Homo sapiens: one gene and its partners. The protein of the gene in region 3 purifies or fractionates together with the protein of the main gene of each other region. This does not show direct contact. Each region holds a gene or a part of one and is shown on either strand. Other genes may lie near its edges.

Evidence for each region.
Region 1: the proteins of KIRREL2 (region 3) and MANBA purify together in Homo sapiens (affinity purification with mass spectrometry; 3 studies listed by BioGRID and IntAct, with this or other methods). This does not show direct contact.
Region 2: the proteins of KIRREL2 (region 3) and CPS1 purify together in Homo sapiens (affinity purification with mass spectrometry; 3 studies listed by BioGRID and IntAct, with this or other methods). This does not show direct contact.
Region 4: the proteins of KIRREL2 (region 3) and FBXO11 purify together in Homo sapiens (affinity purification with mass spectrometry; 3 studies listed by BioGRID and IntAct, with this or other methods). This does not show direct contact.

The regions. Positions count from the first base shown.
Region 1 is NC_000004.12:102,757,952-102,765,439, forward strand, and holds the start of MANBA (beta-mannosidase precursor), read right to left. Parts: upstream 3,018-7,488; 5' UTR 2,944-3,017; coding exon 2,767-2,943; intron 2,502-2,766; exon of another isoform or gene 2,373-2,501; intron 1-2,372.
Region 2 is NC_000002.12:210,587,573-210,594,598, forward strand, and holds part of CPS1 (carbamoyl-phosphate synthase [ammonia], mitochondrial isoform b precursor), read left to right. Parts: intron 1-485; coding exon 486-575; intron 576-2,533; coding exon 2,534-2,662; intron 2,663-3,227; coding exon 3,228-3,334; intron 3,335-4,258; coding exon 4,259-4,397; intron 4,398-5,306; coding exon 5,307-5,384; intron 5,385-5,782; exon of another isoform or gene 5,783-6,102; intron 6,103-6,935; coding exon 6,936-7,026. UniProt on the Homo sapiens protein: Involved in the urea cycle of ureotelic animals where the enzyme plays an important role in removing excess ammonia from the cell.
Region 3 is NC_000019.10:35,852,724-35,859,936, reverse strand, and holds the start of KIRREL2 (kin of IRRE-like protein 2 isoform c precursor), read right to left. Parts: upstream 3,027-7,213; 5' UTR 2,818-3,026; coding exon 2,757-2,817; intron 2,593-2,756; coding exon 2,443-2,592; intron 1,530-2,442; coding exon 1,380-1,529; intron 1,234-1,379; coding exon 1,073-1,233; intron 457-1,072; coding exon 306-456; intron 1-305. UniProt on the Homo sapiens protein: May regulate basal insulin secretion.
Region 4 is NC_000002.12:47,896,487-47,903,512, forward strand, and holds part of FBXO11 (F-box only protein 11), read right to left. Parts: intron 1-7,026. UniProt on the Homo sapiens protein: Substrate recognition component of a SCF (SKP1-CUL1-F-box protein) E3 ubiquitin-protein ligase complex which mediates the ubiquitination and subsequent proteasomal degradation of target proteins, such as DTL/CDT2, BCL6, SNAI1 and PRDM1/BLIMP1.

The DNA of each region.
Region 1 (7,488 bases), on a different chromosome or scaffold from region 3:
AAGCTCGTGCCTGCCTCAGGGCCTCTATCCTCCCCACTCCTGTGTTTTTCCTCTTTGCTGGAAATGCACTTCTCCTTAAAAGTGACCTTTTCAAACAGGTCTTTTTGTTTAGAAGTCACCTTATCAAAATACCTATCTTGAACCACTTTTTAAAAAATAGCAATGCTTTCCAACCAGCCTTCACTGTCTCTTCCTTTAACCTGCTCAATTTTTCTTCAGTGTGCCACCTGCCTTACATTATTTATTAATTTGGTATATATGTCTATCTCCTCCATTAGAATGTCCATTAGGGAAAGGACTTTGTTTTCTTTACCACTCGATTTCAAGTACTTAGAATAGTGCCTGCCACATTAGAGGTACAAAATAAATATGAGATAATTAACTAGGTGAATAGATAAATAAATGAATGATATCACCAAGATATGTTTCAAGTTCTTACACAAACACAATATTTGGCCCAGTGTCTACTATAAACGGTAGAATATTTCCTCAAGTCAACACCAAAAAGGGATGTTATAATAAAGCAGGTCGGACAACAGTCTCACATTACTGAATAACGATACTGATCTGATGTTGATGATTGCTTCTTTACTTTTTTTCTTTTTTTTTTTTTTTTGAGAGAGGGTGTCACTCTGTTGCCCAGGTTGGAGTACAGATCACGGCTCACTGCAGCCTCAACCTCCTGGGCTCAAACGATCCTCCCACCTCAGCCTCCCTCGTAGCTAGGACCACAGGTGTACGCCACCACGCCCAGTTAATTTTTTAATTTTTTGTAGAGACAGGGTCTCGCCAGTTGCCCAGACTGGTCTAAACTCCACCTACCTCTGCCTCCCAAGTGCTGGGATTATAGGCATGAGCCACTGTGCCCAGCCTGATGATTATTTTCAACAGGCCTTGTGTTTCCTAAGCCCCAAAAGCCTTCCCATTTCTCATTCCACTGCCATTTGAGACCCATGGCCACCTGATTGAAACCTCAAGGTTTTGCTAAGAATTTATGAAGAGAGTTAAGAAATCTCTTCAAATTGTTCCTATGAGGAAGTTATTTCATACTATGAGCAAATTCATTTTCATTAAGTATCTGTTGTAACCAAACGTTGTTTCTTAGCTTCTTAGCTCTGTAATATGGCACAATAATCTGACTTACTGAAGCCACTCATTATTTCCCATTGGCTTAATTCTTTCTTTCTTTTTTTTTTTTTTTAGAGATAGAATCTCTCTATGTTGGCCATGCTGGTCTTGAACTCTTGGCCTCAAGAAATTTTCCCACCTCGGCCTCATAGACTCTTTCTATGTTGGCCATGCTGGTCTTGAACTCCTGGACTCAAGGGATCCTCCTACCTTGGCCTCCCAAAGCTCTCACGTACCAGCACCCATTGGCTTAATTATTTCAGTAAAATCAGGCAAGGAGGAACCCTACAAAATAAACACAGGCATTCTCAAAGCAGATATAAGTGAAAACTCAGAGTATACTGTGGTCAGCTGTGTTCTCTATCACAAGTAGTTTGTCAACTTAAAATAAAGTACTAAAGTTTGGGAATGATCTACTCTAAAAATACATCGGACAATGGTCAATGTCATTTACAACATTCACCTCCTTTCTGATACACATCTCAGGAAAAAAAAAAAAAAAACTACTAAGTACCAGGTCAGAAATTTGGCACAACCCTAGATGACCACCTTGTCATGCAAATAAACTTAGAATGGTGCTCCTGAAAGTCAGCCACAGTGCTTCAAAAACACATGATTTTTTAAAACACCAAACTAAGCATACCACATAGTATAGAGACCAGGCTATGGAGTTGAGACCACCTGGGTTAGAATTCCATTTCTTTCCATTTAGTTGCTGTCACCTTCCTAATTTCTCTGTGTTCCATAATTCCATATTATCCATAAAATTCAGATATGAACACTTACTATACAGAGTTGTTATGAGGATTGGACAATGTATGCATCCCACAAGTAGATCAATTACAAGTACATTTTGCCCCAAGTAAAGACAACACGTGGGAACGCTGTGCAAGAGGGAACAGCAAAAGCAGTTGGAGGATGGAAGTCAGTTTGCAAACCTATGCGCACAGGCAGCCAAACACGAAAACGTTCCCCACAAGTAGTCTGTAAATTGGAGACTCCATTGGGATACACACACACACACACACACACGCCCTGAGAGGAAATAGCACCTTTCTTCATCACCAAGTTAGCCTTAAAAATTATTTACCCGTTGTTAGCCACACTAGCACTGACAAACCCAACTTTACTCTTGTAGGTCATTCTCCACAACGTCTGTGCTGCGTCAATCCCAAATCTGACTCCCTGACGCTTAACAGCGAAAATAAAAAACCGAGACATTACTCAATAGAGTTAACCCTTACTTAACAAAACGCTGTTGTCCCCTGTGGCGTGCAGACAGTAGAGACAGTAATTCCCGACCTTATGCTTGTCAGTGACGGCATGCCCTTTGTATACACGCTTCAGTAGAGAACGACTGCAGTAAGTAAACTGCTAGTAGCAACACTGTTCCCCTATCTAAACTTCCCCTTTCCAGAGTTACTGATGTCCCAACATGGGTCGGTCGCTCAGTCTCCGTCAAGCCCGTACCCCATAGCTTGGGCATTTCCCCCCGCAGATCACAAGATGCAAAGGGGAAGTTACTACCAAACCGACGAGAATGGCCCAGAGCTGGGGGCTGCCAGGCGGTTCCTGGGCCCCTCTCAGCACCAGAAGAAGGCGGGCGCAGGCTCGCCGCGGGTCGGCCGCACGCCATACCTGGATCAGGCCCTGCTGGAACAAGGCGCTGTGCACGCAGCCAGGGACCGCCCCGGGCAGCTCCAGCGAGCCGTTCCCATTGCAGATGCTCCAGTTGCCACGCAAGCTGTAACTGAGCTCCGCGGCGGTGGTGCCTGCACCGCACAGCGCGAGCAGCAGGAGCAGGTGGAGGCGCATCTTGAGATCCCGCGCCACCGAGATGTGGAGAGATCGAAAGGCAGCGCTGCAAGGGACCGGCGGTGAAGCCACTCACCCCCTCGGAAGTAGCCGAGGCTTTAGGTCCCCGCCCCGGCCCCGCCCCTAGGTCAGCTGAGCGCTCTCCGGGCGCAGCCGCGGGCGGGAGGGGAACGAGGAGGCTGCGCCTGCACCCGCTGAAAGCCGGGCGTCGCGGGTGCGGGAGCTGCAGCCCCCGAGAATAGCTACAGGCTGGGGGGCATTGCGGTCTGAGCCTTCCCTCGGCGCTTCTTCCCGCCGCCTCAGTACATACAACTGGAGGCAAGAATCTTGCACGGTAATTGGGACAGAAAGATCCCTGGGCGCGCAGTGGCACAAAGCCTCGGGAGATCAGAGACCGACTGTACGTGGAGACCATAGCTGGAGAGTCCCCTCACTCCTTCAGAGAACCCAAACTGGGAGACAACCCACCACTTCCCTTCCGCCAAATTTACACAGACCCTCGTCTACCTGGTAGCGTAACACTCACCCCGCTGCAGCTCAACTCGCGGGTCTCAGAGCCTACCCCGCCCTTCAAAGAGTAAACAAGTACTAGCAGTATCTCCATCAGAAGGTTGTTCTGAGGGCTAACCAAGAAAATGCGACTATAGCATGCAGCATGGAGCCTGGCCCAGAGAAGGCATTCACGTTAGCTATTGTTACTAGCGGCCTGCGTCCTTATGTTTCATAAAGCCCCACGGAGGTTTCTGAGGTTCTGGAACCTGCACTAGGCGCGCAGCTGAGTTTAAAATCCTCTGCACTCACTAGCTGTGGGACCTGGGCAAGCCGCAAAATCTCCATCTCCGTTTCTTGAAGTTTTCAAGGTGTTATAAGTATAAAATGAGTAAACATATGTGATCGTCCCTAACAATGCCAGAGTACCCAAGAAATACCACTGACTTATTTCGGGTCTTGTAGTCAAATGGTCTACCTGAGTCCCATTTTTGCAATAGGATGTAACAGTAATCCTAGAAGTTAAGACGGAATTTTACATTGCATAAAATAGACTGCCTTTCTCCTGTGTTGACGCTATCTGCCGTATATTTATGCTTCGGAAGAAGTCCTTGAAAAGAAATTTTCTCTCATCAAATCTGAGCTTTGTTTCGCCTTACAATGGCCTTGGAATTGCCTGATTCTGCAGACACCGGGCAATATCTTACTTTGCAAAGTCAGCATTATTTACAAGCCCTGAATATCTTGGCTTAAAGGACAGTATGGATTATCCAACCCAAGCCGCTGGCTTTACAGATGAGGGAACTGAGTTCAAAGAGATCGGGGCCAGGCGCGGTGGCTCACGTCTGTAATCCCAGCACTTCTGGGAGGCCGAGGCGGGTGGATCACTTGAGGTCAGGAGTTCGAGGCCAGCCTGGCCAACATGGTGAAACCCTGTCTCTATTAAAAATACAAAAATTAGCTGGGCGCGTGGTGGCACGTGCCTGTAGTCGCAGGTGCTCGGGAAACTGAGGCAGGAGAACCGCTTGAACCCAGGAAGCAGAGGTTGCAGTAAGCCGAGATGGCACTACTGCACTCCAGCCTGGGCTATAGAGAAAGACTCTAAAAAAAAAAAAAAAAAAAAGATCAGGTGACTTGCCTGTCACATAGTGGCAGACAGGATTAGAACCCTCCTCTTCAAGGTCCTACTGTCAGAGCCCAATGATGCTATAGGGGAAACGCTCTCACTGCTTCAAAGCCTTCCTCACTCACTCCAGAAGCATTTTTACCTTTGATAGAAACAAAGCTCTCAATTCAAATTATATGCCATAATTCACGGCATTAAATGGCTAGCCATGGTCTGTGCAACACTGATAACACAAGGTTTATGGCAACAAGAGCGGCAAAGGAATTTTTTCATAATTCCCAGAGATTTCATTAAGCCAAATCAGAGGAAAATTCATCCTTGATGATACATATGGATATATTCTGTTTATTAAGAAATATAATTTTTAGAAAAACAATAATAGAAGATTCTCATTCCTCCTTTCATTCCAGGATGCAAGCATAACATCATTTAGGTTACTTCACTTTGACAACAGAGAACATCAAAGAATAATCAAAGCCCTAATAAGTACTCTTCCTAAAATTGCAATTGGCACAGATGACATGATGTTTTCATTTTGTTATAGGATAATTTTTGTCCATGATTTTCTGGTAAATAAACCTTATTTAGAGATAACATAAAACTTCTCAACTTATGTAATTTAAAGTCATGATACCAAATGCAATGTTTAAAATAGTTATGGGTATCTTTAACTTACACTGTATAAACAGATTTCATTTTGATCATTTCATTTGATGCTTCCCAAAACTTGAATTATTTAGAACAAGTGATCGTTCCCTGGTTTAAAAAGATAAATAATGCCCACGGTGATTAAATGATGTGTAGGGTCAGTATCCTGTCACAACAGACCAATGGAAGTAGTTAGGCCCTTTGCTATATGACAACATTTCCTTCATATCTAAATATATAAAATTGGTAAACTCATTAGAACACCATGGTATATACCAAGGCCAATGATATTCCAATCCCATGATATATTACAGAAGTTATAATAAGGGAAAGAAAATGAAAGAGTAATCAGATGTGGAGTGGACATTTGCCTTTAGACTCATAGTGTCTGATTAAACCCCAGGACTGGGGATAATAGCCCATAAGTATCCTGCCCAAAGGTTTGACATACTTCCCCAGAGTTTGAAGCCCCAAATGTTAGAACAAAGAGAGAAGGTAGTGGAAACTATGTACACCACTAGAATTTGGTGTGTCAAGGATGCATATGCATGAGTTTCCTATAAACCAAGAGGACACCGTAGGAAGTAACCAGGCTTGAGCCAGTATAATGGGATTCTACCCAAGAGAGTCCAAGAAGTCAACTAGAGGACACATGGCCTATGTCAGCAAACTGTGTATATATATACATATACTGTATATATACATATATACATATACGTATATATATACATATACTGTATATATACATACATACATATACTGTATATATACATATATACATACATATACAAATATATATTTTAAATATATATAATTTATATAATAATATAAATATATAAAAATATATAATATAATTATATTATATAATATAATTATATAATTAGGAATATAATATATTATATTCCTAAATAATGCATGGGTCAAAACAATAATAGATTTCCAATTTCTGGCCTGGCATGTAAGGACCTTGGAAGTCATCACTCTATCCTAAAAAGCAAGTAAAAAGCTGCACAAATTGAAAATAGACAACTCTTCTTAGATGAGTCAAAGAAGTGAGGTCACAGGGCAGACTGCTGCCCCAAAATTAGAGATGTAGACAGGTAGATACAGGCAATTACAACTTAACTGAGTAGACCACACACACTACCCCACAACCGTTGTCCCATAGCTGAAATCTCAGTGGGAACCAGTACAGAGTAGGAAGACCTGGACTATAATTGACAAATTACTGGAGGACCAATATGCACAAATTTGAGAGTTAAAAACTCCAAGGGGGCCCAGTCTTAGGGGAGCAGCTGTGCTTTTGTAAGTTTGCCTCCAGGAGCTCCACAAAGCTCTCATAGTGAAGATTGAAGAAAAATCCTCTCGTGTTTCCTGCAAGGGAGGAGGAAAGTAACTATTCTGAATGTGCCAGAGATTCTGTGCTTCTTAACAAGACCCACTCTCAAAAGAAACAATTTTACCAGAGCTGAACCAACTGGGGTTTTATCAGAGTCTCGCCAGCCTGGGAGAAGGAAAATACCCAACTCCAGCCCCCCATAGACATTCTGCCCCATCTAAGGGGGTGAAACATAGCTGAGAAGCACTGTGAAGTTCACAGTCCAGGGGACTGGGCTCACTAGATGACTGAGACCTAATCAGAGGAAAATAGACCATTTTCCCTCTCCCAACACCTTCCCAACACATCACTGAAGGCCTATTTATGGCAATTCCTTTCACCCAGGATGTCATGTATGGCTTTCAACAAAAATTTACAAAGCCAAAGATACAACTTGGAAAGACAAAGCAAATGCCAAAACCAAACTCACATATGGGAGGAATGTCAGAATTATCAGTCCAGGAATTTAAAATAACTATGATTAATATGCTGAGAGCTCTAATGGAAAATTTACACAACATACAAAAACAGATGGGTAACGTAAGCAGAGACATGGAAATTCTAAAAAATAATAAAAAATGCTAGAGATGAAAAGCACCATAACAGAAATGAAGAATGGCGTATTAGTAGATGGAACACGGCTGAGAAAAGAATCTCTGAGCTTGAGGGTATGTCAACAGAAACTTTCAAAACCAAAAAGCAGAGAAAAATGTATGCAAGAAATGAACAGAATATCCAAGAACTGGGGGACAACTACAAAAGATATTGTCAATGAAAAGAGTCAAACTCTATAAATATTTGAAGAGATTTATTCTGAGCCAAATATGAATGACCAATGGCCTGAGACACAGCCCCAGGAGATCCTGAGAGCATGTGCCCAAGGTTGCCCAAGGCTACACAGCTT
Region 2 (7,026 bases), on a different chromosome or scaffold from region 3:
TTTTATCCATTAGGCCCAACTGCAGAAGCCTTATGTACAGTAATTCAGCTTTACCCCATTTGATCTTTACTGCAAGTTGAGGATCAAGTGGTATTTAAAGCATGATGTATCTATTGCCACATCTGTCTAGTGCTGAATCAGGCAATAATGCTTAAACATTTCATTGCTACCAGTTGTTAATGAGGCAAAACATGAGAAAGATGGTTAACTATGCATGCAACCAGTTTCTTAGAGATCATTGTTATTACTATAATCAACCGTTTATATAAAACAGCAAAGTCTTTTTTTCTCATAAAAAAGATACAGTCTGTGGCACTTGTTGTGCCTTTCTTACAAACTGTTTGTTAACTGCCAGTCACTCCCTAGTAGTTAACAATCAATCTGTTACCAATCTAAGTTCAAAACATTGTCAGATGTGTTTATGATTTTGGTCTGTTGCCCATAGCTGGGACTTCCCTCTCATTCTCTGGTTTTTAAAATGGCAGGATGTCAAAGTGTACGGCAAAGGAAACCCCACAAAAGTGGTAGCTGTAGACTGTGGGATTAAAAACAATGTAATCCGCCTGCTAGTAAAGGTAAGTAATTTGTTCATTTCAAAGGTGAGGGTTTGTCATATTGACCATTAGTGTTCAGCTAATTTCCTCTGTCACAGAGAAACTTATGCATTCTTTCAGAATGTCAGGGGTCTACATTCTTCTTGTTGCTTTTGATTTACAAAATAACACATTTATCCCTGTTCAAATTAAAAATATAGACTGCTATGTTTTTTCTTTAAAAAAAAAACCTCAAGGGCCACTAAAACATGGAAGAAAATGATGACTGTTCTTGTCATTAATTGACTGACAGTCTGAGATGCATCATGTTCACTTTCTTTGTGGTATAGAGATGACCAAAAAGCTAGAGTCTGTCTGATAGCATCTCCTTTGGGCTTACATTTATTTTGTACCACACGTTTGTAGGAATCATGCCCTGACAGAGTACGAACTTTCACATTGTTTTTATATCAACTCTTAGACAACCAGTTAAAATTAAACCTTAAAAATTCTCAAGGAGAACTTAACCATCATAATAATGTTTCTTAAATAAAGTTTTGTTAGGATTTTTCCTTCTCCTCACTCCTCTCTCAGTCTGTCTCTGTCTACACATCTCCCCTCCATACACATACACACACATACACACATATTTGCATAACACCAAATTAGCATGCGTATTGGGAGACTCTTCATCGTACCTCCTTATTAGAGAATACCAGCAATATTCAAATCATGATTTCAAATTCTTGTCAATTTTATTAACAAACATTTGCATGGATAGCATGCATGGTAGCAGATGCTGTGGATGGCCTGTGTATATCTCAATCTCAAGTTACCATTTTAATTCATGTTGCCCATCTTCCAATTGCAAATATCTATATCTCTTTGCCTGATGGCTGGAGCCTACTGGCAGGCAGTAAATGGCATAGAATTAATGATCTCTGGAGTAGCCCCCAACCAAAGCACAGAAAAAGCCAGTGTTTAACCACCCTGGCTCCTTTGTCCCATGGATAGGCAGTCTCTAAGGTAACTATTCCACACGGGCTCTCAGAGTTCCCTACTGGGCTTAAACTTCACTTATCCCTAGTGGTAACTACTTGCTAATGCATAATTTATTGGGGTGTTTCATGATGTCACTTCCTCTCTGTTTAGTATGGAAGTACCTTCCAAATAAGCTTTTGTTCTCTTAAATCCTTGTTTCAGGAAATGCTTCATGGGAAACCCTCAAAGACACCTTCCTATGTGCTTTTATATTAAAAGAAATTTCTAAGTTTTCCATTCGAATATAAATCTTACAGAAAATGAGAAAACCCTAGGAAAGAAGGCTGATTAAAATTTGATAAGACTAAAAGGCAAGACTGAAAAAGGTCTGACGTGGGCCAACTTAACATTTTCAGAAAATGGATTTATATCTTTTTGCAACTGGTCGTGTGAAGGTAACCTACTCTCCTGTCAGTCCAGTCATGGCATTTGTAGGCACTGAAACTTCTCTTGAGTGCAGGAGAGTGCATTATCCATTTTTTCAGGATCAAAACTTTTAATGGTGTTTATTTTTATTTTTATTTTTATTTTGAGACAGGGTCTTACTTTGTTGTCCAGCCTAGAGTGCAATGGTGTGATCTTGGCTCGCTGGAACCTGTGACTCCTGGACTCGGGTGATCCTCCCACCTCAGTTTTCTGGGTAGCTGGGACCATACCTGGCTAATTTTTGTTTTATCTTTTTTGGTAGAGATAGGGTTTTGCCCTGTTTCCCAGGCTAGTCTTGACTTCCTGGGCTCAAGCAATTCCCCCCTATCTTGAGCTTCCCTATGTGCTAGGATCACCGGCATGAGCCACCAAGCCCGGCCCCAAAGAAATTTTTGCTCAGCATTATTTATTTTAAATGTTTACAAATTTTTCCTTCCCTTTAAGGAATGGTTAGTCAAGAGAAAGTCTAGCAAAATTATACTTTGGCAAAGAAACATGTTATTAAATTCATCATTCTTGTGTCTCTTTTCCAGCGAGGAGCTGAAGTGCACTTAGTTCCCTGGAACCATGATTTCACCAAGATGGAGTATGATGGGATTTTGATCGCGGGAGGACCGGGGAACCCAGCTCTTGCAGAACCACTAATTCAGAATGTCAGAAAGGTGCAATGAACCTTGAATTCATGTGTATCTGTGTGGGAGGTGGGGGCTTCCGCTCTATACCCTCAAAGGGCTGTGATACATTTTATTTATTCAGGCATTTTTCAATGCTGGTATTTGTGACTTCTGAGGCAGTGTCAGTAGAGATATTCTGTAGGGGAACCAATGAGGAGAGAATATCAGAGAAAATAGGGTTTTTCTTCAGGCAAAGTAACTTGGGGATCATGTCCTTGAGTTAAAAGAACTGGAGTCCAATGGCCAAATGTATTTTGCTTTACAGTTTTAAACCGACAACTCATGGTTCCTTATCATGACCTTGGGACCCATAAGACCTGCAGGTCTCTAAAGAAATATTAAATTAGATTTAGTTTAGTTTGAATGTAAAGTACATCTTAATGAATTATAATGCTACAAATTTGTCAATTATGTCCTTTTTTATATTCTTCTTTAATTCAGTTACTATTCTCTTTACCTTCTTAAGAAAAAAGGATACCTCATTTTTGTTCATTCAGAAGCAACATTTTTTGGAACTGTACTAATTGGTTAATAAAAATTCTCCCTGATTTAGATTTTGGAGAGTGATCGCAAGGAGCCATTGTTTGGAATCAGTACAGGAAACTTAATAACAGGATTGGCTGCTGGTGCCAAAACCTACAAGATGTCCATGGCCAACAGGTGAGGTATTTTCACTTTTGCTTACAGTAAACCAGCTCTGACATACTAACTAAATACAAAGAACTCAGAGCACTTACCTGCCATTTCTTTAGAGTAAATAAATGCACATGTACCCTAAAACTTAAAGTATAATAAAAATAAATAAATAAATAAATAAATAAATAAAATAAAAAATAAAATAAATAACCATACCTTACGTGGTTGACAGTTGTTTGACTACCTGATACCACTTTTGTTGCATTTTTGGAAAGCAGCCTTCTCTAATGATAACCTTGCTATAATTTAAAGTTATTTTCCTTCCCTTGGCATAAATTGAGGTTATAATACTCAATCAAATGATATTCCAAGGGAAATTGTTCTGATTTTAAGCTTGATTTCAGAACATTGTAACATTTTAAGAAGGTAAGTGTGACTTAAGAGCCGAGGAACCTTTAGATCCTCTTGGTTTCTCTTTTTTGCCTCAAACAATATTAATTTATTAAACATCAGGCTTTTTCCCATGGCCCACCCTCTACATAAATTATAATTCAGGTCTGAGCAGTCATCTCTTTGTTATCTCCCTATAACTCTCGGGCTTTAAAATTATTGTAGTTCTCTTAAAGTAAGTCACTTATATTTCTTAGTTTCTGTTAAGCCGGTGAGCAACCCTTTTTGTTATGAGTGCAATGCCCCCCTTTCTAAAACCGATTATAGAATTTAATAGACCTGCGTATTTAACACACAACAAAGCTTCCTGAATTGATTTTTGTTGGGAAAATTACTGGGATTAACAATCTGTGACTTTTCTCACAGAGTGATTTTCACTAAGCAATTGAAATTTTGAATTTTAATAGGCTTTACTTGTTCACTACTTTATAAGGAATACATTTATATTATTCTCTTCACTTTTCCTTTTCCCTATTCTTTTTCTCCTTTTCTCTCCAGAGGGCAGAATCAGCCTGTTTTGAATATCACAAACAAACAGGCTTTCATTACTGCTCAGAATCATGGCTATGCCTTGGACAACACCCTCCCTGCTGGCTGGAAACCACTTTTTGTGAATGTCAACGATCAAACAAATGAGGTAAATGATGTCAATAAACCTGTTCAGTTGGTGATGAGAAACGCAGGGCTTTTAAAAATAATTGATACATAAGCATTGTATATATTTATGAGATACATGTGATATTTTGATACATGCATATCATATGTAATGATCAAATCACACTAGGATAACCATCACCTCATTTTTTATTTCTTTGTATTGAGAACATTTCAAATCTTCTCTTCTAGCTGTTTTGAAATATGCAATAAATTATTCACTCAGAATATTCACCCAGAGTTTTTAAATACACTATGATGCAAATACCTTTCTCCTGTTTGTTTGTGATTTTTTTGGGGTTGAGTGTTGAAAAACAGCTATAGGTTTTCTCCCATAGCCCTCTGTGTTTTAAAACGTCATTTCTCTCTCTTATTCTCTCATCAGTTGACTTGTTAAGATTCACTATTTGAGTTATTAATCAACAACTATCTCATATATTCAATGTTAGTGGGCTGTTGGTCCAAATCTGTTTGAGCCCCATCTGGGTGGGTCTCTGGGACTTACTTGGCACTGGTGTAGTGTTTGAGAAGACCCTTGGAAAAGTAATTTCGGACTTGGGGATAAGATGAGGACTTGAGTTTACTCTGAACAGAACCCAGAGGGGTCCCAAAGACTATAGACCAAATTTTTTATTTATTTATTTATTTTAAAGGAAAACACATTCAGTTGAGTCTTCATTGACCCATTTTCCATACTTAATCAAAAAGGTCAGATATGTAAGTCCTTAAGATATCGGACCATGTTACTTAATAGTACTGTTAGTTACAAAAATTTTGTTAAGCATCTAACTCAGTTTTTAAATTTGAGCTTTATTGTTCCCTGAATAATACATAGCCACACTTGACATTCATTGTTACAGAAGGAATTTCTTCCTGTTTCTTATTCCTTTAGGGGATTATGCATGAGAGCAAACCCTTCTTCGCTGTGCAGTTCCACCCAGAGGTCACCCCGGGGCCAATAGACACTGAGGTACGTCAAAAAGATGAGGCCTATTATGTATGCAAAAAAAAAATGTATTTGTGTGGAAATTCGAGAAACCAAAATAATCACCCCAGATGATCTTGAGCAGAACATTCTCAAGAAGAGTGCTTTGGTAACACACATTTTGTATTAAAATCTCCCCATGAATGTCACAGAGGAAATTTTTATCTTTTTTAAAATTTAAAGTGGGAAAGCCCTTAAGAAACCCGAAGCGATGGTATTTTTATTTAAACCCATTATCATTCTAATATATTTAGTTCTGAAATTTACAATTGTTGTACTATGCAAATGAATTCCCTTTTGCTCTCTCTCGTTCTCATGACTGAAATGAAATTTTAATCCCCCATCTGTGACTTCACAAAAATCCCTATGGCAACTGGTTGTGTAGCCACTAAGGGAGAATAAACAGCAGCAGGAGAAGGAGGGGAAGGGTGTTGGAGGGGAGAGAGGGCATGCATGCACATACATAGATGATTCAGACGGCTTCAGAAAAGAACCACAAGGAATGCTTAGAGGAGTTTTGTATTTAATCTAAATATTTTTACTTTTTTGTGTGTGAGCTCTTAGTTCATTGTTCAAACCCATCTTTCCAAATAAATTCTTCTGGTGATATCCAGAAAAATCTGAAGTCTATTGTGACTTCCCCACACCCAGGGGCCTCCAGTAGCAAATCTTCATTGTCAGAACTCTCAGAAAAGACTTCGAGGTAAAATGGGGAAGAGAATAAGAGCTTTCTTTCTGCAAGCTCTGCTCTACTCTCTCATGTCTGAATTGCCGTTTTAGATATTTATATTTTGTTCTTGTTTTAATATTATTAGGAAATATTGGTTCTTAATAGCCAAAATCAGTATTATATTACCAACCCATGATGAAACTCATAAATCAAATTTAGTTATGTGTATCATCTAACACATGCTAAGTAGTTTTTTAATTTAAAATTTAAATTAGCATATATTAGTACTTCGGATTAGGAACATTGCAATTAAGATGTAATAATATCCACTGTCACATAATTCTCCTTTTTTGTCTTTCCAATAATTGCAAAATGAATATTCTTTGTTGTAATTTGTCATATCTAGTGAAACAACAGAAGTAAATCCTTTGGCAAAGATTAAGAATAATCTTCAGAAACTGTTTTTTAGAGCCGATAGAAATTTAAATTTAAATTAGTATTTCTAATTTTCTATATCATAAGTGATATAGCTTCAATTGTTATATCCACCTAGAATTTGATTTAGAAGAAACAAATGATATACAATTTACTAAAAACTTGGCATTCTCAGAAGGTATCTGATATGTTTACTGCTTGTTGGAAACTTCTTTTTTATAAGACTTGAAGTGAACAGAAGTGTTTATTTGATTAAATTCTCACACTAACAGATATTTAGTTATTGACAAAAAAGCAAAAAAAGCTGAAATGCTATAATAAAAATTATTTGTTGCTTATCTGAAGTTCAAATTTAACTGGGTATATTGTGTTTTATCTGGTGAACTTAGGAATTTTGAAGCTTCTAACTAGTTGGTTGTATTTTTTTCTAGTACCTGTTTGATTCCTTTTTCTCACTGATAAAGAAAGGAAAAGCTACCACCATTACATCAGTCTTACCGAAGCCAGCACTAGTTGCATCTC
Region 3 (7,213 bases):
GGTAGCTGGAATTACAAGTGTGTGCTACCACGCCCGGCAAATTTTTGTATTTTTAGTAGAGACGGGGTTTCGACATGTTAGCCAGACTGGTCTCGAACTCCTGATCTTAGATGATCCGCCTGCCTCGACCTCCCAAAGTTCTGTGAGTACAGGCGTGAGCTACCATACCCAGCCCTCTCCTGCTATCTTAGATCCAGGAGTCCAGGCTCCAGTTTCCTCATTCCCCAAGGGCCACAGTCCCCTCCTTCCTCATACCCAGGAGTCAGGGCCCCACACCCCTCTTTCCCAGGGCCAGCTGCACTCACACTGCAGGCTCAGTGTGATAGCTGTGTCTCTTCCTGTGGGCAGGGCCTGGCTCCGGGCCCGGCAGACAAAGGTGGCTCCATCATCATGGCTGAAAGGGGTCAGGGTTAAGGTGCTCTCCACTGACCCAGGGGTCCCTTCCTTCAGCAGGGTCTGGAGGGAAGGATAAGAATAATAATGCCATCTACCCATCAGGGGTGTCCAATCTTTTGGCTTTCCTGGGCCACATTGGAAGAAGAATTGTCTTAGGCCACACATACTAACACTAATGATAGCTGATGAGCTAAAAAATTACAAAAAAGTCTCATAATGTTTTAAGAAAGTTTATGAATTTGTGGTGGGCCACATTCAAAGCCATCCTGGGCTGCATGCAGCCCATGGGCCGCAGGTTGGACAAGCTTGCCTTACTTATATAGTGCTCACTATGTATTGGTCACTCTTCTGGGCATTTATAGGTATTTATTTATTTAATTCTCACAATACCCTATGACATGCATGCTACTATTATCCTGATTGTATAGATAAGGCAACTGAGGCACAGAGAGGTTAACTAACTTACTCAAGATCAATCAACTAGCAAGTGGCTGAGACATAATTTGAACCCAGGTAGTCTGGCCCTAGAATCTTTACCCTGCATCATATTTCAAGAGTCCAAACCCATGAACCTCTGCCCTCCCATGTCTTCTTCTCTTCTGGATGAGCCTGTGGTCAGAGTGTAACCCAAGTTTCCCTCAATGGGCAAAGGCTAGCACAGGAATTTGGACCTGACCTGATGGAAGGTGGCTCCATCCAACAGGACCCCATCTCGGAACCACAGCAATTCAGGGGTAGGGCGGGCATCCCCACGGCTCCGACATGTCAGGTTCGCAGGAACTCCAGCAACCAGAGACACAGAGGGGCCGCCCAGCACCTGGGGGGCTTCTGGGGGGACTGCAAGGTGGATTTGGGGTCAGAGATGGATCCTGATCTTCTCAGCTCCAATTGACCATGCCCCTGGGCTCCCTGGGCTCTGCTACTCACAGCTAGTACGGGCTGCCCTCTTGGGCTCCCAGGGGACAAGTGGGCGAGGTCCTTACCCAGCACGTGCAGTTGGGCTGGTCTGGAGCGGAGGCCTGCTTGTGTAGCCTGACATTCATATGATGCTTCATCCTCTAGCTCCACGGGCCTAATGTGGAGGTCATGCTGGCCATTGGCTGCATTCCCTGATATCCAGTACCGGGACCACCCTGGAGTCAGGGAGAAGGCAGTCAGCACACCATGGTTCTGAAATCCTGGCCTCAGGCCTCCATCCCCAGACATCCTCCACCAGAAAACTGGCCCACACATTTGGTGGTAAGACACTATTAAAAAGTGTGTACTGGGCCCAGAGAGACTCTAACTCCCTCCCAACCCAGAGTCACTGCAAACTTAGGGGTAATAAAGTCAGGAAGGAAAGCAAGAAAATGATTGCCATAAAAATTAGGTTAGATACTACTTCTGGAGTGAGGGGGAGGGGGCTATGATAGGGGAAAGGAACACGGGGTCTTCTGGGGAGCTAGCAATGGACTTGGGTATTGGCTGTGTGTGTCTATTTTATTTGGTAAATCTTCCATTTATATTTACTGTACTTTTTTGCATTTATGTTCTCTTTTTTTTTTTTTTTTGAGACAGGGTCTCACCATTGCCTGAAGTGCAGTGGCTTGATCATGGCTCACTGCAGCCTTGAACTCCTAGGCTCAAGCAATCCTACCACCTAAGCCTCCTGAGTAACTGGGACTATAGATGCACACCACCATACCCGGCTAATTTGTTTAAAATATATATATACATTTGTGTAGAGATAAGGTCTTGTTATGTTGCCCAGGCTGGTCTCAAACTCCTGGTTTCAAGCGATCCTCTGGCCTCAACCTCCCAAAGCGTTGGGATTACAGGCGTGAGCCACTGCACCTGGCCTATGTACTATTTTGCAATAACATAATAATTCCCAAACTCCGTGGGTCACCCCCAAAGAAGCAGCTCAAAAATCAGGACTCCTAAATGTTTACCCGAGCCCATCAATTTCCCAAACTTGAAAATGTCAAAATAGAAACTGCAGGTACAGCCGAGCCCAGCAACTCTCCCCCTAGCCAGCCCGTCCCAGCGTGGAGAGAACACTCTTACCTGGTAGGTCCCTTTGGCCCCCTAGGGCCAGCCCACTCTTAGTCCACTGAACTAGCCCCCAGTAGGCGCCCAGAGCACACGGCAGCCGGGCTTCCTCCCCCAGCAGCACCACCAGGTCCTCTGGCTGTTGCAGGAAATGGGGCGACGGGCCTAGGAGAGTTCGGGGCAGCAGGGCTGAGCTTAGCACCTTCAGGGGCCTCCTCATTCAGGACCCAGGAGTCCCAGCCCCCAGCTCCCTTCTCGCTAGTGAAGAGGCAGCCCGCAAGCAACTCCCCACCCCCACCCCATATTCCTCCGCTCCCCTCGTGCGGTACCTGCTCTCCCTCTGAAGCAGAAGAGGAGGACGAGGAGGGCGGGGACCCGCATCCTGAGCATTCGTCCCCCAAGGTTCACGAGATTTGCCGTCGCACTGGCCTTCCCGTCAACTTCTTCCTCTCAAGCACGCCTCCTGTCACCCTGGCCCGGAGCCCCCTTCACGCTCGACTCTTCGCCCAGCCTAGTCTCTGGCCTGGAGTCCTCCAAGTCTGCTCATCCGCAGCCTCTGACGCTCTGAAACGCCTGCCAGTTCCGCGGCCTGGGTCTCTGGGAGACCCCAAGAGGGCCCGATCCCGCTCGCCCCGCCCGGGTCCGCCCCCCGGGAGCTCCGCCCTCTTCCCGTTGAGAAACTCCCGCGGCTGAGACGCGGATGAATGGGGGACGCAGGGCGGGATCCCCCGGCGGGTGGGCGCCCCCAGCTCAATTGGGGTCTGGGAGCCGGAACACCTGGGTTCGAGGAGGGAGGGGGTCCCGGCTGGGTTGGACACCTGCGCCCTGCCGGGGTTGAGGGGCAGGCAAGGGGTGAGGAGGAGGGAAGGGAGAGAGTGGAAGAAACTTGCTCAGCCCAGGTCCTAGAGGGACTGCGCTCAGTGGAAACTGAGCTATAAATGGGAGCTCCTGGGGCCTCGCCAGTTTCCGCGCCCTGGGGGATGCGGGGTCCGGGGCTCCCCCGGGCCTGCGTGTCGGGAAGAGGGCACACCGATACCTGGGGGACAGTTGGGACCCCTACCTCGACTCCCCCAGCCTCAAAACCCCTCCTCAAAATATCCCTCTGTTCCCTTGTTATTGCTGCAAACTACAGCACGTCCTAAGACCCAGGAATCCAGGCCCTCGGCCCCTCCTTTCCCAGGACCCCGCAGTCCCAGCCCAACCCCTCTCCCCACTCGGCCGGCCGGGCCCCTCGGCCTGGTTGCCCGGCGACGGCTGGGAGGCGGCGGTGCCGGGCCGGGGCAGGCAGGGAGGCTGGGAACCGCGCAGCTTGTCCTGACGGCTCCATGCAGCCCAGCTGGGGCGTTCCCACGCTGCGCAGCTGGCCGAGCAGGTGGGAGGGACCCCGAGCAGCCTGAAGGAGGGCTGGGGGGCTGGGACCCTGATCTGACATTCCTGGACCTGTAAGAACTGGAGGGTCCACATTCAGATTCTCCACTGTTCTTAGGCTCAGACTCCGTGTCCCTAAATGGGGGAGTGGGGTTGGGAGTGGGGGTTGGACTTACAGGGTTATAAGGGACTGGTGGTTCAGGCCTTTGCTGGCTGAGACGCTGATGGCCTGATCTCCCGGTTCCTTGAGAGGCTGGAGACTCAAGGTGCACTCAAGTGCATGGTGCACTTGGAAGAGGGTGACAGGGGTCAGAATATCTGGTCTTAAGTCTTAAGAGTCGGTGGATCTATCTGCCAATCTCTCCCCACCCCCACACAGGCCCAGGAGGATTTGGAAATCAGACCGTGAACATCTGTCCTAAGTCCTGTGTGTATGTGTGTGTGTGTGTGTGTGTGTGTGTGTGTGTGTGTGTGTGTGTGTGTGTATGGGGAGGTGCGGGGGTGGGTAGTGTGGCCAGGAGGATCAGAGGCCCAAATTCCCGAGTCCTTGGAGAGAAGGGACTGAGACCCCAGGGTCTGAGAGGGGAGGGATCTGGGGGCCTACACTCCCGGCTTCTGTGTGGCTTATCTAGTGCCTGGATTTTGAAATAGGATGGACATGGGGCTGGAACTCCTGAGTCTTAGGGAGGAACTCAAGTCATGGGGCTGTTTTTCCAGGCACTTGACGCCGCTTCCCCTTCCTGGCTCTCTGGGGCTACGGACATGGAAAGATGGAGAGCCCAAGGTCCCAGGAGCATGCAGAGAAGGAAAACAGCCAAGGTGGAGGGTGGAAGGTTTGTGCTTATTAAAGGCCCCAGCAAGGGACAGCTCCACGCTCTGGCACCTAGGGACACCATCTGGCGAGGGCCCCCAGGACAGAGCCACTCCCCCAGCTCGGCATCCAGCCCATTTCCCAGGGGGTGTAGAGAGCAGTTGGGAGAGGGGAGGTGGGAGGAGGGCAAGGAGTCAAGCATGTGAGGGAAGATGGAAGTCCAGCATCGAGGATGAAGCTGGGGGCTGAGGCCAGATGCCTCATCTTGTTCCTGGGAACGATATTGGCGGGGGTCTTGGGGAGGTAGGGAGAAAACTAGCATTTCCAATTCCCGCAGGAGATAAGCAGGCAGAAGAAGCTTATCCCAGGCAAGTGTATGTGCACGCGGGGAGGGCAGGCCCACCAGCATATGGTTATAAAATCCAGGGATGTGATGAGCAGAGCCACTCGGAGATGGAGAGACACATAAGAGAAAGAGGCGTGGTCAGAGTGTGGCTGAGAACAAATATTTATGGAGCTCCTGGTGTGTGTGAGACAGACTGTGGGGTGAGGGGAGCGACAGAGGTGAGAACAGAGACAGAGAAACAGAATAACAGAGACATATAGAGATGGAGAGACACAGTGAAATAAAGATTGACTGAGATTTAACAACTTAATATAGAGAGCGAGAGAGTCTCAAACAGATGGAGAAAGATAGAAAGATAAATCAGCTGGGCACAATGACTCACGCCTGCAATCCCAGCACTTTGGGAGGCCGAGTCAGGCTGATCACCTGAGGTCAGGAGTTCGAGACCAGCCTGATCAACATGGAGAAACCCCGTCTTTACTAAAAATACAAAAAATTAGCCAGGCGTGGTGGCGCATGCCTGTAATCCCAGCTACTAGGGAGGCTGAGGCAGGAGAATCGCCTGAACCCGGGAGGCAGAGGTTGCAGTGAGCCGAGATCACACTATTACACTCCAGTCTGGGCAACAAGAGTGAAACTCCATCTCAAAAAAAGAAAAAAGAGAAAAAAGAAAAAAAAGAAAGATAAATCAAGGGCCAGGTGCGGTGGCTCATGCCTGTAATCCTAGTACTTTGGGAGGCCGAGATGGGAGGATTGCTTGAGCCCAGGAGTTCCAGACAAGCCTGGGCAATATAGCAAGACTCTGTCTCTGCAAAAACATTTAAAAAAAATTAGCCAAGTGGCGGGGTGCAGCGGCTCCCACCTGTAATCCCAGCACTTTGGGGGGCCAAGGCAGGTGGGTTACCTGAGGTCAGGAGTTCGAGACCTGCCTGGCCAACATGGCGAAACCCCGTCTCTACTAAAAATACAAAAATTAGCTGGGTGTGGTGGTCAATGCCTGTATTCCCAGCTACTCAGGAGGCTGAGGCAGGAGAATCGCTTGGACCTGGGAGGCGGAGGTTACAGTGAGCCAACATCGCACCATTGCACTCCAGCCTGGGTGACAGAGCAAGACTCCCTCTCAAAAAAAAAAAAAAAAAAAAAAAAATAGCCAGAGTGGTGATGCGGGCCTGTAGTCCCAGCTACTCAGGAGGCTGAGGCAGAAAGAACACTTGAGCCTAGGAGGTTTGAGGCTTCAATGAGCCATGATCACACCACTGCACTCCAGCCTGGGCAATAGAGAAAGACCCTGTCTCTACAAACAAATTTTAAAAAATTAGCTGGAGTGGTGGTGTGCACCTGTAGTCCCAGCTATTCAGGAGGCTGAGGCAGGAGGATCACCTGAGCCCAGGAAGTTGAGGCTGCAATGAACCAAGATCATGCCACTGCCCTCCAGCCTGGGCAACAGAGCAAGATTCCATCTCAAAAGAAAGAAAGATAAATCAAGATAGATAGAGGGAGGGAGAGAGAGAGACATGGAGAAGGAAAGAAGAGATGGGAGAGAGGGCAAGAAAAAGAGGGAGAAGAAAGCTCATGCAGTCCTTGCCAAAGGGCGCCCACTTTGGGCTCACACTGCACCCACACTGGGGGCCGGTGGAATTGGACTCTGCCTTTTACTCCCGCCCACACCCTGTGCACTCCCACGTAAGACACTGTCACACACACGCTCTCCACATGCTTATTACAGATCGCAGTTCACTCTAACCTTCCCCACTCTCACACCCACGTACACACATGCATATCTTCCCTCTCTCCCACACTCTCCCAGCCTGTCACACTCACTCTTGCATCCTCCCCAGCAGAGATCCCTGACATCATTTAGGCACTGATGTCTACTAAAAAAGGAAGGGAGGCCAGGTGCGGTGGCTCATGTCTGTAATCCCAGCATTTTGGGAGGCTGAGGCAGATGGATCACCTGAGGTCAGGAGTTCGAGACCAGCGTGGCCAACATGATGAAACCCCGTCTCTAGTAAAAATACAAAAATTAGCCAGGCATGGTGCTATATACCTGTAGCACCAGCTACTTGGGAGACAGAGGTGGGAGAATTACTTGAACCTGGGAGGTTCAAGCCATGGGAGGTGGAAGTTGCAGTGAGCCGAGATGCCACTGCACTCCAGCCTGAGCAACAGAGCAAGACTATCTCAAGAAAAGAAAGAAAGAAAGAAAGAGACTTGCCAAGGTCATGTATCAGGGCAAGGAAGAGCTGGGGGCCCAGCTGGCT
Region 4 (7,026 bases), on a different chromosome or scaffold from region 3:
CCCACAGCTAACTTTGTATTTTCTGTAGAGACGGGGTTTCGCCATGTTGCCCAGGCAGGTCTCAAACTCCTGGGCTCAAGCGATCCACCCCACCCAGCCTCCCAAAAAGTGCTAGGATTACAGGCATGAGCCACTATGCCCCGCCCAATTGTTTAATTTCGCTTCCCTCTTTTACTTGGCCTAAAATACCAAAATTTGACAAGTTATCATAATCAGTCTCTTAAAAATGCAAATGTCTTTCAGAGAATTAATGAAGACATCAGTCATTCATATGTAAGTGTGAAGTAGTATAGTGGCTACTTTTATGTATTGCTGACCTTATATGAAATAAAGTGAGTGAGTCTATAATTTCCTTTACCATAAGAACACTTTGCTAAAAATACTAGCTTTCAAAATATAGTGCCTTACTCCAACTTCTATTTCTCTCAACAAATCTTCTTTGATATTTCTTCTTTACTATGATAGAAGTCTGGAAAGACTCCTACTTTTCATTTGTTAAATTTTATTCACTTCTAATTCCCTTTAAAGCTTGTTTTTTTCTTTTTTCAAAAAGTTATGACCAATTATGTGGGAAGAAACAATAACTAGTAACATACATACCAAAGTTGTCCATCTCAATATATAACAAGGGAATAAAAAATAGTTACATGCTCTTCCTCTTCCCCATCCCCTTTCCTACTAAGTGTTAGAATCTCATAAAGCCACATGTTCTTATATACAGTATGTTAATATACTATGAATGGAAGATAGAAAAATCAATGCTTGGATATAAAAAAGAATTATTGTATCTAAACCCAAGTAGAGTTGGCAAATCAGCAAAGGCTAAACTGATTCAAGTCAGTTGGTTACACTACAGTAACACAGACACCAATATCAAAGGTTAAACCCACACAGTGGCCAGTTAATTTCACACTAAAGAAAAACTTCTGGTCGGGTGAGGTGGCTCACGCCTGTAATCCCAGCATTTTGGGAGGCTTAGGCGGGCAGATCACTTTACATCATGAGTTTGAGATCAGCTTGGCCAACGTGGGGAAACCCCGTCTCTACTGAAAATACAAAAATCAGCCAGGCATGGTGGTGTGCACCTATAATCCCAGCTACTCAGGAGGCTGAGGCAGGAGAATCACTTGAACTCAGGAGGCAGAGGTTGCAGTGAGCCAAGATCACACCATTGCACTCCAGCCTGGGTGACAGAGTGAGACTGTGTCTTAAACCAAAAAAAAAAAAAAAAAAAAGGAAAAGAAAAAAGAAAAATTTCCAACAAAGATTTTGCCACAATTCAACTCAACCATCTGGAAAAGGAGTGTTGTTCACTAGGAAAAAAGAGTAAAAATGAGATTATCACTATTATCAGAAAAATAACTAAAAGTACATATTCTTACTCCATTTCTAGCCTTCAAATAATCTCTAAGTATGAGAAAATACAAAAGCTCTCTTCACACAAAAAAAAGGATGAATGACACCTCTTCTCTCATGAGATGTGAAAATATTCCTTAATGTTTTTTAAGGTTTAGTCACCACATGGAAGAAAACAATTTTCTCCCCTTTTTGAACATAGCCCCATGATCTTCATTTGTTAAAAAGAACAAAACATTTAACAACGGGGTTTTTAGAAACTGGGAGAGCAAGCAATTAACATACTGAACTCACACTTGCTTTAACATGCTATCTTATTCGGGGTGTTTAAAAAACGTTTTAAATGCAATTAATGCATTCATTTTCAAAGGAAAATAAACATTTTTGATATTTGCCTTCAACTGAAATAAATCATGTAAAGGAAGTTAGTTGGTTTCATTTCTCTATTTTCTAAGGATTAAGTTTAAGCACATTTTTTATGCTAACCAAACATATATAAAAACTCCAAGCTACACATATAAGAAACACACCAAACCATGGTGAGAAAAGAATATTTAGTCCACAAACCAGTCAAAATTACCACTGAAATCTAAAACTAATTTAACGCACATTTTTCTCCTTCTGAAATAGTCCAGCCTACAACCATGAGCTAAAATCAGTTAATACCCTTTATTCATAACTTATGAGTAATTCAGGGGAAATCTACCCTTCTTTGTATAATGAGTGCTTAATGATCTCATCAACACACTGGAAAAACATGCTGGTCAATCAGTAGAGTCTCATCTTGAGACAAATCTACATGAGAGGTAAAATTATAATCAGAAGATTACTTGAAAAATGTGAAACCAGATAAGTCAACAATCAATAGCATCAGACTAGTGCAGCCATCTCCAATAGGACAGATGGTATAGAACAGGGGACAGATCTGCTTCAAGGGGCAGGTTATTGCATCCCCTGAAAGTTATACAAACATTCTGCCAAATGTATTTTGGTATCTTTCCTTGTTTATAGAAAGATTAGGTGATATAAATCAATTTTGAAATTTTTTTGCTACTTACTATGCATCTTCATTGTTGTATAGCTGAGCCTCTACTTCTTCATTTATTAAAAAAAAAAAGTAATAAAATCTCTTACAGAATTGGTATAAGGGGGCCAGGCACGGTGGCTCATGCCTGTAATCCCAGCACTTTGGGAGGCCGAGGCGGGCGGATCACGAGGTCAGGAGATCGAGACCATCCTGGCTAACATGGTGAAACCCGGTCTCTACTAAAAATACAAAAAATTAGCCGGGCGTGGTGGTGGGCACCTGTAGTCCCAGCTACTCAGGAGGCTGAGGCAGGAGAATGGTGTGAACCCGGGAGGCGGAGCTTGCGGTGAGCCGAAATCGCGCCACTGTACTCCAGCCTGGGCGACAGAGCAAGACTCCGTCTCAAAAAAAAAAAAAAAAAAAAGAATTGGTATAAGCTTCAACAAATCAGTTTCTCTGAGGTTGTAACAAGTCATACAGATTGAATTTTATCTCTTGGGTTTAATTTTATATACAGCTGATACAATCCCTTACTTTTTATATTTAAAAGACCTATCATTTATTAAATATCTATCATGTGCTAGGAACTTTACTATCTCTCATCCTTACAAATGTTCTATAAGGCAGGTGTGATTCCCACTTGAAAGATCACAAAGTAAGGCTCAGAGAGGTAACATTGCTCACCAAATGTTAAATAACTAATCAGATGTGTAGTCAGGATTAGAACCCATATCTAGCTAGCTTTAACTCTGAGCTCTTTACATCATACTGTCTCATTCCTTATAGTGTATCTTCATAATTTTATTTTCACAGGGTAGCAACTACAATTTGGGGAATACTTTGCCAACAAAGTCACATACTATAATTCTGTGGAAGATAAGAATATATTTCAAAGGTCTGATAAATCAGTGAATTGGAAGGTCTAAAACAGAGTAATACTTCAAAGATAAGTGGGACAAGACAGAAACAAAATAAGAGTAACTTTAATATCAGGGATAAATAGGGGGACAATAAAAGACCTCATGTTGAAATAGCTCATTACTGTAAACTGGTTATTTTCAAAGTTAAAACAAACGGTGGGGGGCGGGGGGACTTGAGAAAATACTCAAACTAGGGGTTCTCACTAACAGATCAGGAACTACTTGTGGTTCCTGCCTTACCTAGTAGGTCTCCAAGCTGGTTGGCCTTCTCTTGGGTTTGTCAGAATTTCCAGTAAAGGGAGAAAAGCAGGATAAGAGCTCTTAGGCCTTATCAGCAGAGCTCTTAGGCCTCATCAGCACAACTTTAACACTAATAGCAACACTACTCTGTTTCTATCCCTCAAGTAAGTTCCAAGCTTTAAGAAAATAGGCTCTTTTTACAGCTCCCATACTTCCTGCCTCCAAAAGGTTGAGTGGCACTGTCTCCTCTCATGGGATACATTTGGAAGGGTTAGCCACCAGATGACAGAGTAGTACCCCACAGTACTTACTTCCTAAAACAGGAAAAATCATGTTTCTTGTGCAGAACTCCTCTATTAAGACTGCACAGGATCCATGAAGTTAAAATATCACATGCTAGAACAATGCCACAGAAAGTATAACTAGCATTCCTGACTAGAACAGCAAGGAGTGTCTCCTGGCTGCTGCATATTATAAATATACAGCTCATTCCTCATCAGTACAGTGTCGAGAAAAAAGTATATACACGTATATATACACACGTATACACACATATATACGTATATACACACGTATACACACGTATATACACACGTATACACACACGTACGTATATACACACGTATACACACACGTACGTATATACACACGTATACACACACGTATACACACACGTGTATATATATACACGTATACACACACGTGTATATATATACACGTATACACACACGTGTATATATATACACGTATACACACACGTGTATATATATACACGTATACACACACGTGTATATATATACACGTATACACACACGTGTATATATATACACGTATACACACACACGTGTATATATATACACGTATATATACACACATATATATGTATATATATACACGTATTTATGGAATTGCAGGGTTTTTAAAAATTGAAATCATTCAGTACGTATAATATTACATAAAATATTGCCGGTGGGGAGATATATATATTTATGTATATATATACACACGTGTGTACATATATACACATATATATGTATATATATACACACGTGTGTACATATATATACATATATATGTATATATGTACACACGTGTGTACATGTATATATATACACACGTGTGTACATATATACATATATATGTATATATATGTGGGTACATATATATGTGTGTCATAGATAAGATTTTTATCCCACAAATATGGGATTAGAGAGACTAGGTTTTTATTCTACAAGATTAGCTCAGAGTAGAAATGAATAGCAAAATCTATTAATGCATTCATTAAATTTCTTGAACTATAAATATCACAATTAGATTTTCAGCACTTCAAAACAGTCCTGTGACTTTTCCAATAACTAGAAAAAAAATACATCTATTTTCAAAAACTCCCATGTCAAGATTATTTCCAGAACCCAAATTCATCTTTTATTAAAAGGTAATAAATGAGAAACTAATAACAGTTATTAGATTCCAGGTAGAAGAATTTAGTAGCTGGAGGCTGATGTACGAAGGGGACTTCTGAATTTTAAACTGTGGCAATATTACCTATTCAAAGTAATTAATTTTATTTTATTTATTATTTATTTTTTGAGATGGAGTCTCATTCTGTCACCCAGGCTGGAGTGCAGTGGTGCAATCTCAGTTCAAAGTAATTAATTTTAACAACTAAAATCTACTGATGAGAACACACAGCACTTCTGTAGACTTGTAAGCTTTCCTCATACTTTGTAATATCTAAAAAAATTACAAAATACATTCCTGCAGTAAAGACAATAAATTCATCAGAACGGGCTGCAAAAGCTAACTCCTTCTAGAATTTTAAAACAAAACAAATATCAAAAATCCAATCCCACACTACTGTTTCATTAAATCATGGACTATATTACCGAATTGTCACTGCGTAAAATACAGTTTTTATTTTTGAGACCGAGTCTTGCACTGTGTCACCTGGGCTGGAGTGCAATGGTGTGATCTCAGCTCACTACAACCTCAGCCTCCCGCGTTCAAGCGATTCTCCTGCCTCAGCCTCCAGAGTAGCTGGGATTACAGGCGTGAGCCGCCATGCCTGGCTCATTTTTGTATTTCTAGTTAAGACGAGGTTTCACTACGTTGGCCAGGCTGGTCTTGAACTCCTGACCTCGTGGTCCACCTGCCTCGACCTCCCAAAGTGCTGGGATTACAGGCGTGAGCCATTGCTCTGGGCCTGTAAAATACAATTCTACTAGTACATGAAATCCCAATCTCAGGAATTTAAGAAATTAAAAAAGCTAATGATTAGGCTAGTATTTAGTCTTAGGATAGCTGATCATTTCAGCTAACGAGTGAACACAATAGTCCATGAAATACCCAGACCAATATTTCCTTACGTGGGGTGTAAGAAATGCTCCCCCATGGAAAGCTTTGAAAAATCCTCAAAGATTTTAATCTATAGGGTCTAGTTTCTTTCTTCTTCAAACACTGGCCATTACAGATAAGACAAAGCGTATATACACACACACATAATGTATGTACAAACATGTATATACACAAATATACCCACATACACACACACATACACATACACACGTGTGTATGTAAATATATTTAAAAGTGGTGTCAAGGAAGTTTTTATACCAATTAACCTGTGGGCAATGAAGCAGCTAAAGACCATTCTGACAGACTTTTTGCCTGAAAACATATTATACTGTAACTATTTTATTACCACTAAAGAACCTGAAATGCATCTTTATATAAAACAAATGATTTTATATACAGTCTGAACTAGTTTGTCTCAAAACAGCGAGTCTCACTTTGATTCCCTATCTGGAAAGTTGTCTGATCCACTATTAAGTAACTCTATCCAAGATCCTAATGCAAATGTTACATATCCATTAAGAGTTAGTAAAAGGTTAAAAAAAAAAAAACAAAAACCACACATACATTCTTAGCTTTAGTTCTTTAATTATCCTGTAATAATTAAACCCAGCATATTCCTAAACTAGCAACAACAAAATCCCTTTCTTTCCAAACTAGAAAGTGACACTTTGCGTGCTCCATAAAACTTTCGAAATAGAGTATTCTTAGTTAACTTCTGATCATTATATGAATCGGACATTTAAAAAAACGTAATTAAAATGTCAATTTTTCAAAGAATAACATATTTTTCCATATGGCTGGCAACATCTTTATTATTTTAGTTAACGAATTCATCTTAATGTTTTATTCATTTTAAGGCCATTTATGTGCCCTCTTTAAGACTCACACTATTTTCCCTAAAGTTCTTTTCCTCTCTGCTCTGTGCCAACACAGAATCTCCAAAACAGTTTGTACTAGCTGCAGAGAAGCAACAATTCTACAGTAAATTTCATTTACCATTTGGTTGGGTACATACTGAAATTTGGATTCATGAATATTGACAGTTTATAGACATCAATGAGAAGAAAATTGACACTGGCATGTGACTGCCAACAACCAAGTCACCTTACCTCACATAGAAATGAAAAT